Linked DNA regions of Homo sapiens. The protein of the gene in region 1 interacts with the protein of each later gene in a pairwise test. Each region holds a gene or a part of one and is shown on either strand. Other genes may lie near its edges.

Region 1 (7,802 bases):
TGAAAAGAACTCGCCCCAGTCGATAGCAGAGGGACCCGTACAGGCAGATGGGTGGGGTGGGGGGTCAGGACCTCTTCCAGGAGGGAGTGGGATTGTTCCTAACCCCCTGCCCCCAGCTGTCCTCTGGAACACTGATTCTGGGGTGGGGGTGAGCTGCTGCTGCCCTCCAGTTGAGGGAGGTCTCTGTGCTGTGAACCATCTTAGATCCCCCACCTCTACCCCACCTCTACCCCGCCTACCCCTCCTGCCGCCAGCCCCAGCCTCAGGCCTGGCCTCTGGACTTGTCCCCCTGCGCCTCTGGTGGGAAGAATTAAGAGTCAATTTTTGTCGTCAAGAAATTGTTTCTAATTTGCCCTTTGACTAATGGCCCAGGGAACAATGGAGAGATACCCAACACACGATTATTGGGGGCGCAGCGGGCGCAGCGCGGCTGCTCTCGGGCCGAAGCAGGCATTTATTTGGAGCAGCGGCTAATTCACAATTTCATGGAACTTGCCTGACACCCCCACCCCCTTGTATTAAAAAATGATTATTTATATGATGATTTCAGACAGAGCAGCATCTCAGAGGTTTGGGAGCCGGGAGACCTACATCTGCTGCTCTTGGGGAGCGTGGGGGTGGGAGAGGAGTGCTGGAGGGGGCTCCAGGGCTGGGCCCGGTTGTGGGGGAACAGGGGCCCCTAGGCTGAAAGGGAGAAGGCAGTTCTCGGGAGTGCTTCTGCGTGTGTGATATGCCTCTGCACACATGTCTTGTGCATGTGGGAGTGTCACATGCTGCACGAGGCTCACCTGTCTGCCCATCTGTGCTGTGGGTTTGGTTTTGTGTACACTTCCAAGTGATTCACATGTGGGCACATGAGTGTGTGCAGGCAGATGTGTGGGCACACATTCAAGACTGTGCACAAGTGTGTGTGTGAATATAGTGTGCGTTAAAGGGTGATGTGAGCCGGCCTGCTAGGTGTAGGAGCGCAGCTGGTTATGTGGGGCGGGGGGTTATCTGCTCCCCAGGCCAGAGGGCAAATCTGGAGTGGTGTATGCCAGGCCCATGGAAGTGACTCCAGATCCTGCTGGAGAGGGATCAAGGTGGGGTTCAAGGCCACTCCTGGCACTGTTCCAGGCCCCACTGGGTGTCCACAGGCCTAGCCTCACTTGCAGCCCGCTCACCTGCAAAGCTGCAGGAACTTCAGAGACCTGGGCCCTCCAGCATCAACACTGACCTCGGGTCTATTATCCCCTCTCCTTTCCTCCCCCTCTGTCCCCTCGCTGGCCCTCTCCCCAGTGGAAGGCAAGTCTGCAGATCCCCACACCATGTTCCTCTGAAATTAAAAACATTTGTTAGCTCTGGACAGCAGGAAGAGTAAAAAAGGAAAGTAGGGAGGTTTCCTCTGAGCAGATCGCCAGCCTGAGCTCCCGGCGGCCCAAGTCTTCCAGGGGAACTCGGGAGCTTATTTTGGTATTGCGGGAGCTGCCCAGCGGCCAGGCGCCTGTGCTGGGCAGCTGCCAGCCCCTCTCCACCGCGTCCAGCAGACCCGTCTGCAGTTATTTGCTGTAACAACTGTTTTGAAACAGTATTGAAAAAAAAAAAGCCCACTAGAATTTGCTTCAAGTGAACACTGGGGGAGGAGGAGGCAGAAGTGGGGAGGAAGGAGGAGGGCAGGGAGCTTCCGCACTGCCCTGGAAGGCGCACTCGACGCCTCGGGGCCTTTGCCCACGCGAGCAGCCTCTTTCGGGGACACGAAGGGACCAGCACTTGGGGGATTTGAAGCCAGTGCTCATCCTAGGAATCTGGTGAGGCTGAGCCAGAAGGGTCTAAACCAGCTTGAGGAGATAGGGGCCACGCACCCGCGAGCTACCCTCTGCCCTCCCATGTCCCTGGCAGTGGGCATTTCTCAAATGGTGATTGATGACTGGGGATGGGGGTGGGCAAGCCGAGGGCCCATCATTCAGGCTCCAGGACCCTCGAACAATCTGCCCACGGGGGAGGGGAGGCTGGTTTAGGGGCTCTGAGGGGCCTTTCCAGCGGCTGTCCTTCCAACACACTCTAGAGGAGACCAGGACTCCCAGGGGCTTGGGGCCTCCCGTTCCCCCACAGGGCGGTTAGAGGTGGAGCACCTGCCCTGATGCGAGGAGCTCAGAGCAACTTCTGGGACACCACGGGTGGCCACGGTGTTCTTTTTGTTGCATCCAAGATTTTTCTCGTATACGTATTTTCCTATATTAAAAAATTCAAATGAGGCTTTAAAAATTAACTTGAAAAAGGTTCCTGATCCGGAAACAGGCTCATCGGAGGCAGTGATGGGAACTCGGTTCCTTAGGAGAGTAGGAAATGCGCCGTCTGCGAGGGGCGCCCTGCGTGGACCCGGGGCCTCGGGGCGCGTCCACTTACCCGAGCCAGGAGAGACTGGGCCCCACGGTGTTAGCCCCGCGCTCGGGCTCGCGCGCCGCTTCCAGCTCGCGCCTCCTCCATCCCCGGAGGGCTCCGCGGGTCCCCGGCGACGGGTCCCTGCCCAGGGTCCGGGAACCTTCCCCTCCCCTCCTTTCTCAAGCGCCATTTCTCCGGAGCCGGGCCGGCCGTCCTCGGTGTACGCGGGAAGCGGGCAGCCTCCGCCTGCACCCGCGGGGCCGGGACCCGGAGGCACCCGCTTCCCCGACACACTCGCTGGGGCCGCTGCTCGCTGCTCCAGCCTCCCGAGGCCACGGCAAGAGCCCGGGGGTCGGCGCCACACACCCCCAGCCGGCGACCGCGCCCAGGGACCTAATTCAATCGCCCCCAGCCTAATGAATAGCCGCGCGCTAATCGGATCTCCGCGCGCTTCGGGGATTTACGCTTCCCGGCTCTCCCCCTCGTGCCCCGCGGCCCGCCAGACGTCGCTTCCGAAGGCGCCGGCCTGGGGCCTGGCCAGGGGCTCGGCCGCGGGGGGTCCCGGCCGCCGGAGCCGGGAGACGCCGGAGACGGGAGCCGGGCCCGCGCGACCGCCACTCCCGAGCCAGCCGGGGTGGGCCCCGCGCCTTGTCCTGCGTCCCCGGCCCGGCCCGCGGAGCGCCGGTGCTTACCTGCGAGCCCCGGGCTCTCCGGAGCTCCCCTCCGGGCCGAGCCGCCCGAAGCGGGCGCCGGCGTAGGCCCCGACTCAGGCAGGCGGGAAATCCCGGAGTCCCCGCCCGCGGCCCGCAGCCCCCCACCCCAGGTCGGCGTGGCCTGCGGGGGGGAAGGCCGGCCGGGGCCGGCCGCCCGCTTCCCCTTTCTCTCCAGATTCCTTTGATCCGCGGGCTCTCCGCCGCACCTCGGCTCCCGGGCTGCCCCGGTCGGCCCGCGGGGATCCTGGAAACGGTCCCCAGCTTATCTCCTTTCATCAAGCGGCCTTGGGCCGCCTTGAAACCGCGGAGCCAGTAATTGCTTTTTTCAGGAGGCCCAGTGCGGACTGGACAACAGCCAATCAGCGCCTTGTTTACACTCGGTGATGGACAGTCCACTGGCGGAGTGCCAACCAATCCCAGCGGTCCCGCGGGAGCGGGAGTGGGGGCGGGGAAACAGAGAGACAACAGGCTTTGAGTTTAACTCTTTCGTGTCCCTGCCGGAATGAGACGGTGGAGAATTTCGAATGCGTGTGAATCTGTCAGTTGGCTCCTAGTTTAAATATCCTTTTTTCCCCCAGAGGGGGAGGCAGAGATTCACATGGAGAAAGAGGAGCAAAAATAAATGTATCCATCGCCACTAAGACATCACCTCGACTCCCTGAGAATAAATAGCATTTGGGTGGGAAACCAAATTCTAACAGAAATATTTGTTTGCGGAATATTTTAGAAGTGGTTTGCATCTGATTACGATAAAAATTGTTCAGTGGCTTGCTTTAGTTGGAGTGAGGATTTAGCAGATAGGCAGACAGGGAGCAGCATTGAGAAATACTATACATGGTTTACCACACCATACCCGCTTCCCCCATTACCAAACTGAAAATATTTTCTAAATCTAGGTGTAGATGAAGAAAGGGCAATCCTTGTCTTCTCAATAAATCCCTGATTTTCATTTTAGTAGCTGCTCTGTTGCAAAGTGTGGCAGAGGGAGATAAAATTGAGAGCCAGTAATGTAGACGGCTGGAGACTCAGAACTCACTTCCCAGGGTCTGATCCCCAGGTCATGGGGAGGAGAGAGCCGGACGGGCTATTCAAAGCTTTTGCTGCCCAAGCAGCGGGCGTGCGTGCGTGCATCCGCGAGCTCGGGTCCGGGCAGGCAGCAGCTTCAGAGCGGTAGATGGGCCAGGCAACCTGGGGAGGCCTCTGGGCTTGGAGGTCTGGCCTACCTGCCACCTGCCAGACAGATTCCAGGGAGAAAAAGCAGCTACTTTTAAGGGGTGGTGGTGTTTCTTCCCTTGGCCTTCTGTGCGGCAGAAGCCAAACGTTAGACCTGCTGGATTAAACATATATGTGTGTGTGTGTGTCTGTGTCTGTGTCTACGCCTCCCCCTCCGCCGGGACACGCGCACTCGCTCGCTCCAGCTCCCTCTCCCGCCCTGCGCCACCACATTCCCATTCAGCAGCAATGATCTGCGCAGAGGAGCTGCGCAGTCGCCGGGCTTGAATTAGGCGCCATCGGGCTTGGTAGTAGCCCCGCTGCTTCCTGATTGGCAGTTCCCTGGCCCGGCGCCAGCCTATTGGGAGGCCTGTTTACGCCGAATGAGTGGCACGAGCTCCCGGCCGTGGAGGGCTGCGCGGCCAATCAGCGCGCTGGCTGTTCCGGGCTGAGTGGCACGAGCTTATTAGTATGCAGGGCCCGTGGCTCGCCGCGCCAGGCTGCAGGTTTGAGAGCCGCTCTGGATGGGCTCGCTAGAGTCGTTGTTGTGGAAGCGGTGCATTTACAGTGCAACAGTCAGCACATTGAAAATACCAATAGGAATACAAAACAAAGTCACATTTACTGATTTAATTGTATTGCATTCAGTTGTATCCAGGAAACAGCCTCCAGTAAGTAACTGAAATTGCTTTCATTTTTTTTTTGTTTTTGTATTTTTATTATTATTTTATTTTTTATTCTGGCTTTGGGGTTTTACATTTTTTTTAGCAAAAGAAATTCAGGATTGTGATGTTAAGAAGTATATATCTTCCCTTTTAACAAAATCCGTTAAAATGTTGAGGCTTTTTTTTTTCTTAAAAAATATGGACTATGAGCGATTTTTTTTTCTCTGAAAAATCTTATCGATCGGTTTAAAATTACCCCCGTAATGCATCCTTGCTTTGCTCTGAGCGCTTGTTGTCTCGATCGACACCCAGCATTAAAAACAAATACTCGAAGACAGGACAGGGACCGCCAGGCTGCGTCTGGCGCGAGCCGCGCGGGTGGCACCGGGCGGACAGTAGGCGAAGTCCGGGCGCCGCCAGCGTGCGCCCAGTTCTGGGTGACCCACGAACGAACCCCAACATTCGCTCCCCTACCCTGCTCCCCTCCCCGGAACAGTCCTGGGTTGGCCCTGCCCGGTCGGTCCGCGGCGAGGGGAACTGGCCGGGTCGTGGTACCCACGGCCGCTGCCCTGAGGGGCCTTCCGGGCCGAAGCTAGGGGCCGGGGAGGGGAATGGTCATGGCGAGTTTTTCGGGTCTTCGTTCCCAATTCAGAATTTTTTTTTTCCGGAGAAGTGGGGGTGGAGGAGGGGGACCGAGCAAGGCCGGCGCAGCGGGGCGTTTTCACCGCGCGCGTTCGGGACGGCGCGCGGGGCTCGGGTCACGGCCCGTGTGGCGGGGTCCGCGGGCTGGTTTTCTTCGGGCGCGGGGGTCAGGCGCGACCCCAGTTCTCATGACTCTCCCAGGGAGCGGGTGCGGCTGTTTCGCAGGGAGCGGGTTCTGCGGCGACGGCCGAGCCACTCGCGCCCCAAGGCGCGCCTGGTCCCAGCCCGGCCTGCAGGCCCCACCGCGCCCGCGCTCCCGGAGACGACGCCGGAGGGAGGCAGACGGGCCAGAGTCCTGGTCTCCGGCAGGCGGGCGAGGAGAGAGCGGGTTTTTAGATGCAAAAGCAGGAAACAAAGCAAACTTGTAGAAGCTCCAGATCCTGGAGCGCGCCAGCCACGCCTGGGGCCGCGGCAAGAGGGACCGGCGGCTCCAGGGTCACGCCCTGCCTTCCCGGGAGGGAGCCCTGTGCTCCTAGGTTCAGTTCCTTCCGAAATGCCCTCGTCAGCGATTCTCCGCCCGCCCGGGGCCCTCTGCCCGCCGCCACTTTTCGCTCCATTTCCTCCCTTACCTCAGCCCGACCTGGCGCTGCGGCGCCGTCCTCGCGGTCCTCCGGCGCGGCCTCTCCTGGAGCTGGGCTGGGAGTGGGCCCCGGGCCTCGGCACTCGGCGGGTGGCGGCGTCGCCGCTGCGGGACTGTGGGACTCCCAGCTCGGGCCGTGTGGCCGCCCTTCCTCGCCCCACTTCCTGGCCGCCTCAGGCTCCCCAGGCCCCCGAAGCCCGGCGCGGGCAGACGCGGAGGCGCGGCGCGGCCTCTCCCCGGGAGGAGAGAACACAAAGAAAAGCTCTCTCCAATCCGGTCAGAGCCGTGGCGGCGCAGGCAGGCGACAGTAATCCACCTCCTGTTTGCTTAAAAAGTCGAGCAGGCTGGTGAGAAAGGAACAATCGGGCCTGCGATCCGCCCGCAGGGGGTGGGAGATTAAAATTGTTGCTTCGTAGCCGAGCCCGCGTCCCGAGAATCGCCGGCAGCTCGCGCTTTCTCAACTTTGAAATTTCTTATTGGAGAGAAAAAAAAAAAAAAAAACAACCACAAAACAAAAGCACAGCACACACGACTCCCTGGAGGCCGCCAGGAAGCCTGGCACCCCCGCGTGCGCAGCCCCCGGCCCCTCTCCGGCCTTCGGCGCCTTTGAAGCTGCAGGTTTCTGACCTCCCTCCCTTTCCTTCTTTCCCTTTGTCCCGCCCGGCGCCCTCCGGGGCTCGGGAGGCGCCGGCCGGGGCTGGGGGCCCCCACGTCCCTAGTCCAGCCCGGGCAGCCCCTCCCCTGACCCCTGCGCTCGCAGCCCCCTCGCCAGAGCACTCTCCGGGCCCTGGCGGCCGGGCGCTCGCTTTGCAGGCCGGGATCGGGGCTTGGGAGCCGAGCTATTTGTTAGACCCGGGGAGAGAGCTGGCGATCCCCAGAGGGAAGGGAGCCCCAAACGCCTTTGTATGTAGTTGCCAGACAAAGAGAACTCTTTGTGTAGACCCATTTATTTACAATGCAAAAGCTCTCCGAATAAATATTAAAAAAGCTTATCAGCTGAGCAAATATGTATTCACTTAATACATTATGTTTTCGGTTATAGATTAAATCAAACACAAAATAGTCTGCAAATAAGACGTTTTAGAACCCGGACCATAAAATATCGCAATTTAAAAAGGTATTCAGTAGATGGAAAACATCTTAATCGCTTTGTTGTCATGGTGGAATGGCTACAAAAACACAAGGTTTTCCGCAAAGTTCCTAATTAGGAATATCAAGCCTATCCATCTCCCTTTTGTTGGAGGTGATAAACATTAAAACAATACGTATTTAGAAGATGAGGAGTAATATGTGAAGTGCGTCCAGGGAGCGCCTTCGGAGGGACGCCTGGGAGCACGGTGGTGCACGCAGCTTCTATCACTGGCTCCGACCCTCCGCACCCAGAGTCTAAAATTGTCCCCAATTTCGCCTGAGTGGATGCTCCGCGTTGGGTGGGGGTGGAAGAAAATGGAGGTGAGGGTTATTTTAGGTGGCCGAGGTCCGGGCAGGGTCTGCTGGCAGAAGGTTGTGCTGGGCCGGGCCCACCTTCCCCGGCTAGAGGGCCGAGCTGGGCGCCGCAGACCCCGCGTA
Region 2 (7,034 bases), on another chromosome or scaffold:
TCTGCCTCCCGGGTTCAAGTGATTCTCCTACCTTAGCCTCTCGAGTAGCTGGGATTACAGGTGCCCACCACCACGCCCAGCTAATTTTTTGTTGTTGTTGTTTGTATTTTTAGTAGAGATAGGGTTTCACCATGTTGGCCAGACTGGTCTTGAACTCCTGACCTCAGGTGATCCGCCCACCTTGGCCTCCCAAAGTGCTGGGATTACATGTGTGAGCCACCGCGCCTGGCCATGTTCTCCATTAAGTTAGAATCTCCTGTGACATCTTTTTTTTTTTTTTTTTTGTTTGAGGGAAGGTCTTGCTCTGTCGCCCAGGCTGGAATGTAGTGGTGCAGTCACTGCTCACTGTAACCTCGAACTCCTGGGCTCACGGGATCCTCCCGCCACAGCCTCGCTAGTAGCTGGGACTGCAGGCACACACCTGTAGTCCCAGCTATTTGGGAGGCTGAAGTGGGAGAATCGCTTGAACCCAGGAGGCAGAGGTTGCAGTGAGCCGAGATCAGGCCACTGCACTCCAGCCTGGGCAAGAGAACGAGACCCTGTTCCAAAAAGAAAAAAAAAGATAATACAGTGTTTCCATTGTTAATCAATGCACGGTCTAGAATCTTTGATGGAATTATGGACATTGCAAACACTTTCCAGAGATCTATACTCACCACGTTCAAAAAGCAGGCTTCTGTTCTAAGCAGGTGGGGGTAGGAAATCTCTCTTTCTTTTAATATAGTAAATGTTTGATCAGCGATCTTATATTTAATATTTGAGGTACTTGAATTATTATTATTTTTTAATCCTCTGAATGTATGTAAACAGTTAAATCTTAATGTAAAGCCCAATGTAACACTGTGAGAGTAAGTGGAGACTGAGCTGTGTAGCTCCGTCTCTTCTGTTGAAACTCTTCAGGATGGATTTAGTGCGTGTTAGGGCTCAGGGAGGACAGGTTGAGGGTTAAGCATCCCAAGCATATGTTTATTTCTGGCTGAGTATTTACAGGGCTTAAAGCCTATGCATTTTGTCTTTCCGCCTAGGACAACAAAAGTAAAACCAGCATGGGTTTTGGCTCTCACTGTTGTTTTTGCCCTCTGTAAGGTTATATAAAAAACACAGAGAAATTAAACTACGGGAAAGAACATCAATATAAGCTGACCGTCACTGCCTATGACTGTGGGAAGAAAAGAGCCACAGAAGATGTTTTGGTGAAGATCAGCATTAAGCCCACCTGCACCCCTGGGTGGCAAGGTGAGCTTCATTCTCTCCCCTGCGCTCACATCTGCTCTTAAAACTGATGTATGCGGCAGCAACCTAGAGTGTGTGTTTTCCTTCTCTCTTCCCCTGCTGACTTGTGGACCAACACAGGATGGAACAACAGGATTGAGTATGAGCCGGGCACCGGCGCGTTGGCCGTCTTTCCAAATATCCACCTGGAGACATGTGACGAGCCAGTCGCCTCAGTACAGGCCACAGTGGAGCTAGAAACCAGCCACATAGGGAAAGGCTGCGACCGAGACACCTACTCAGAGAAGTCCCTCCACCGGCTCTGTGGTAAGGAGACCAGGCGTTCTTGCATCCGGCTGGCTTTGGTGAAGGTGGGAGGGACCTTTACAACTGGAAATACTTGTGTGTGTTGTGTTCATAATTATAAACTGTGACAGAGAATCTGCATTTCTGAAGTGAACTTTGCTGCCTTGCTGGCTAGTTTTCATACTGGATGGGCTTCGGGGGTGGGGCAGGGGGTGGACATCAACTCCTAAACGTCTATTCAACATGTTGTGTATATGTGCATTTTAAGAACCACTGGTGGCCAGATGTGGTGGCTTATACCTGTAATTCCAGCACTTTAGGAGGCCGAGGTGGGAAGATCACTTGAGCCCAGGAGTTTGAGACCAGCCTGGGCAACACAGCGATACCCCATCTCTACAAAAAATTGAAAAATTAACTGGGGATGGTGGCATGGACCTGTAGTTCCAGTTACTTGGGAGGCTGAGCGGGAGGATCACCTGAGCCCGGGAGGTTGAGGCTGCAGTGAGCCGTGATGGCACCATTGCACTCCACCCTGGGCAATAGAGTGAGACCCTGTTTTAAAAAAAGAACCACTGATTTGAAGGAAGTATTTCTCCAGCATACTCTGAGAATCATCCAAAAAGGGCTTCTATAGGAGTACATGGAGTGAGTTTTACATGAAATGAGATGTTTACTTACGAATTGAAGACAAAGGCCAGGGCATGGGGGCTCATGCCTATAATCTTACCACTTTGGGAGGCCGAGGTGGGCAGATCACCTGAGGTCAGGAGTTCGAGACCAGCCTGACCAACATGGAGAAAACCCTGTCTCTACAAAAAAAACAAAAACTAGCCGGGCATGGCGGTGCACGCCTGTAGTCCCAACTACTTGGGGGGCTGAGGGAGGAGGATCGCTTGAGCCCAGGAGGTGGACGTTGCAGTGAGCCAAGATCACGCCGCTGCATTCCAGCCTGGATGACAGAGTGAGAACCTGTCTCAAAAAGAACTGAAGGAAAAATATAGGTAATACAATAGCTTTTGACAAACATGAAGTAGAAAATCAGAACTAAAGATAGCCACATCTAACTTAGAATCTCAATAGATTTTCTATATCACAATATTGTGTGGAGAAATTGAGAGACAGAATTACTGGGAAACCCACCAGAAGGCTAGGTCTCTCTTTACTGTCAGCTGCGGATATTTTTCTGGTTTATCTAAATGAAGAAGAGGTGAGGTATGGATGGCTGTCATGGAAGATGTTGAGGGAAGAACATTTAGTTGACTGGTGATAAAATCCCACTAAATGAAGCAGCGTCTTCATAAATTGGAAGGGTCTTTTGTGTTTCAAAAAGCTTTTGTGAAACAGCTTTTCAGGGAGCATTTTCTTAAACTGATGAGTCTTTTCACTAGCCTGATAACAACCATGAGATTTAGGTTACTGGTTTTCTTTTTTTTTTTTTTAGACAGAGTCTCACTCTGTCACCCAGGCTGGAGTGCAGTGGCGCCATCTCGGCTCACTGCAAGCTCCGCCTCCTGGGTTCACACCATTCTCCCGCCTCAGCCTCCCGAGTAGCTGGGACTACAGGCACCTGCCACCATGCCCGGCTAATTTTTTTGTATTTTTAGTAGAAACGGGGTTTCACCGTGTTAGCCAGGATGGTCTCGATCTCCTGACCTCGTGATCCGCCCACCTCGGCCTCCCAAAGTGCTGATTGCAGGCATGAGCCACCGCGCCCGGCCACTGGTTTATAATTGAAAATTATCCAGATCACTTGAGGTCAGGGGTCTAAGACCAGCCTGATCAACATGATGAAACCCCCGCTCTACTAAAAATAAAAAATTAGCCAGGCGTGGTGCGAGGTGCCTATACTCCCAGCTACTTGGGAGGCTGAGGCAGGAGAATTGCTTGAACCCAGGAGGCTGCAGTGAGCCAAGAGTGTGCCACTACTCTCCAGCCTAGGTGACAAAGCTAGACTTTGTCTTAGAAAAAAAACAATAAATAAGAAGAAAATTATCATGTGGTAAATAAACCAAAGTAGAAAACTAGACATTATGCTGCCACAGTCCAATGATGAGCATATGGGGGTGTTTGGCAACTCTGAATCCAAATATTCATAATTGTCACCTAAATATATTTAAGTAAGGAGGTCTGGCACATTTTCTGTTTTAAACCATGCATGTAAGTATAATATATAAAATTTATTCCGTCTCTCATTTCATGGTATTAAGTGAATTTTTTTTCAGCAGAATAAAGTTAGGAAGAATAGAAATAATTTGAGTGCTTACTATGCACCAGGTACTTTTTTTTTTTTTTTTTTTTTTTTTTTGAGACAGTCTCCCTCTGTCGCCCAGGCTGGAGTGCAGTGGCGCAATCTCACTCACTGCAACGTCTGCCTCCTGGGTTCAAGCGATTCTCCTGCCTCGGCCTCCCAAGTAGCTGGGATTACAGGCATGTGCCATGATGCCTGGCTACTTTTTGTATGTTTAGTAGAGATGGGATTTCACCATGTTGGCGAGGCTCGTCTCCAACTCCTGACCTCAAGTGATCCACCCACCTCGGCCTCCCAAAGTGCTGGGATTATATGCATGAGCCACTGCGCCTGGCCTTACTCCAGGTACTTCTATGTGTGTTTTAGCTTAATGTTCCCAACAAGTCTACGAAGTAGGTGGGTATTGACCTTGTTACAGAGGAATTAAACAATTGAGACTAAAGCAGGTTAAGTAGCTTGCCCAAGCCCACATATTCAGGAGCTGAGGTTCTAGTGTGTGTGTGTGGTTTTTTTTTTTCTTTTGAGACAGAGTCTCACTGTCGCCCAGGCTGGAATGCAATCGTGCTATCTTGGCTCACTGCAGCCTCCACTTCCTGTGTTTAAGTGATTCTCCCACCTCAGCCTCCCAAGTAGCTGAGATTACAGGCATCTGCCATCATGCCTGGCTCATTTTTGTATTTTTGTAGAGACAGAGTTTCACCATATTGGCCAGGCTGGTTTGAACTCTTGACCTCAGTTGATCTGCCTGCCTCAGCCTCTCAAAGTTCTGGGATTACAGGCGCAAGCCACCACGTCTAGCTTCAGGAGCTAAGATTTGGACCAAGGTCTTCTGTTACTCAAGAGGCCAGGCTGGTCCAGCCAAGGCCTGCTGCTCCGAGTAATAGCTTAGTCAAGAAGGAGCTTGCAAAATCTTTTCCTGTGGACAAAAAAAAATTTTTTTAATTTGAACATGGCAATACATAAGAATGGTTGGAAAACATTTTTTATGTTTTTTGACTTAGTAATTTCATTTCTAGGAATTTATTTTAAGGGAATAATCATGGAGACACATAAAGCTGTGCATGCAGGTGAGGTTTATAATAGGAAAAGGTTAGGGACAGCCTCTGTGCCCACCTGGGAGGCTGGTCAGTAGGTGATGCTGTATCTGTACAATGAAATGCTATTCAGGCCGAGCGCGGTGGCTCACACCTATAATCCCAGCACTTTGGGAGTCTGAGGCAGATGGATCGCTTGAGCCCAGTAGTTGGAGACTAGCTTGGACAACATGGCGAAACCCCGTCTCTACAAAAACACAAAAATTAGCCGGGCATGGTGGCACACACCTGTGGTCCCAGCTACTTGGGAGGCTGAGGTGGGAGGATTGCTTGAGCTCAGGAGGTCAAGGCTGCGGTAAACCAACGCTGCACCACTGCACTGCAGCCTGGGCGAGAGAGGAGACCCTGTCTCAAAAAAAAAAAAAAAAAAAAAACAACTATTCAGATAGTTTAAATTACATGATAGAAGAATATTGCTAGGAATATATATGTATTATGCACATACATAGCAGGACTCCACTTTTATTGTATTTGTTTATATATTTTTGAGACAGGGTCGCACTCGCCCAGGCTGGAGTATAGTGGCACAGTCACAGCTCACTGCAGCCTCAACCTCCTGGGCTCAAGTGATCCTCCCATCTCAGCCTCCCAAGTAGCTGGGACTACAGGGATGCACCACCACACCTGGCTAATTTTTGTGTTTTTTGTATTGACAGGGTTTTGCCATGTTGTCCAGGCTGGTCTCCAACTCCTGGGCTCAAGCAATCTGTGTGCCTTGGCCTCCCAAAGTGCTGGGATTACAGGTGTGAGCCACCAAGCCCTGCCAGGACTCCATTTTTCTAAGAAAACGCATCATTTTTGTGTATATTTACCAAAGGAGGACTGGGTGTTTATACTAAAATGGTATAATTTGAATCAGATTACAAGAAATGCTTCCTTTCCCTTCCTTTTTGTTTTTTTTTTTTTTTTTTGAGACGGAGTCTCGCTCTGTTGCCCAGGCTGGAGTGCAGGGGTGCGATCTCGGCTCACTGCAAGCTCCGCTTCCCGGGTTCACGCCTGGCCCTTTCCCTTCCTTAAACAAATCCATGGTTGTTATTTTTATTTTTGTAATTTAAAACCCTGATTTTTGAAGAGAAGTAAACTGAAAGGGCCAAGCGTGGTGGCTCACGCCTGTAATCCCAGCACTTTTGGAGGCCGAGTCAGGCGGATCACGAGGTCAGGAGTTCCAGGCCAGCCTGGCCAACATGGTGAAACTCCGGCTCTCCTGAAAATGCAAAAATTAGCCAGTTTTAATGGGGCGCGCCTGTAATCCCAGCTACTCGGGAGGCTGAGGCAGGAGAACAGCTTGAACCCGGGAGGTGGAGGTTGCAATGAACCGAGATCGCGCCACTGTACTCCAGCCTGGGGACAAAGCAAGACTCTGTCTCGAAAGAAAAAAAAAAAGTAAACTGGAGCCAGCAGATTGCCTAAGTGTAAGACAAGCACGTGCCTGGGGGCTTGAGGTGCGCGGGACCTCTGGCTCCTCACATGAGTTTCACCGAGCACTGTGGCTTCAGGTGCGGCCGCGGGCACTGCCGAGCTGCTGCCATCCCCGAGTGGATCCCTCAACTGGACCATGGGCCTGCCCACCGACAATGGCCACGACAGCGACCAGGTGTTTGAGTTCAACGGCACCCAGGCAGTGAGGATCCCGGATGGCGTCGTGTCGGTCAGCCCCAAAGAGCCGTTCACCATCTCGGTGTGGATGAGACATGGGCCATTCGGCAGGAAGAAGGAGACAATTCTTTGCAGTTCTGATAAAACAGGTAGGGTAATAGCTCTGCAAGCGATGCCAGGCCCCAGTGTCCAGTAGGGTGGGTGCCAGCGGCAGGCTCCCTCTCCTTTCCCAGGGTCCCCTGCCAGCCTGGTGCTCGTAGGCCATGTGCCATGCTGTGTGCCTGGGGCACTTGGTTCCCTAGAGCCACGGCCTGGGCATTTGGGTATTAGCTGTTGTTGCTCAGTGGGGTCCACGGTGATCACAGGCTCCGCCTCTCAGGAAAGCCCAAGTGTATTTGTTTCTAAGCCCTGCCTTGGCTTAGCCGAAGAGTTCATTTATGCAGATGAAATTGTGTCTTCAAAATCCATTCAAGAAACAGCTTTAATTTCTCCTTTGGATCTTTAGTTGGCAATTTACCCATAGAAACTGCCTTTGCAGATATGAATCGGCACCACTACTCCCTCTATGTCCACGGGTG

Evidence for each region. Proteins that work in one complex are often made in the same cells at the same time.
Region 2: the proteins of BAHCC1 (region 1) and CLSTN1 interact in a two-hybrid assay, tested with the Homo sapiens proteins (one study listed by BioGRID and IntAct).

Annotation. Positions count from the first base shown.
Region 1 is NC_000017.11:81,390,679-81,398,480, forward strand, and holds the start of BAHCC1 (BAH and coiled-coil domain-containing protein 1), read left to right. Parts: upstream 1-4,778; 5' UTR 4,779-4,957; intron 4,958-7,802.
Region 2 is NC_000001.11:9,743,966-9,750,999, reverse strand, and holds part of CLSTN1 (calsyntenin-1 isoform 1 precursor), read left to right. Parts: intron 1-1,086; coding exon 1,087-1,236; intron 1,237-1,353; coding exon 1,354-1,539; intron 1,540-6,356; coding exon 6,357-6,605; intron 6,606-6,994; coding exon 6,995-7,034. UniProt on the Homo sapiens protein: Postsynaptic adhesion molecule that binds to presynaptic neurexins to mediate both excitatory and inhibitory synapse formation.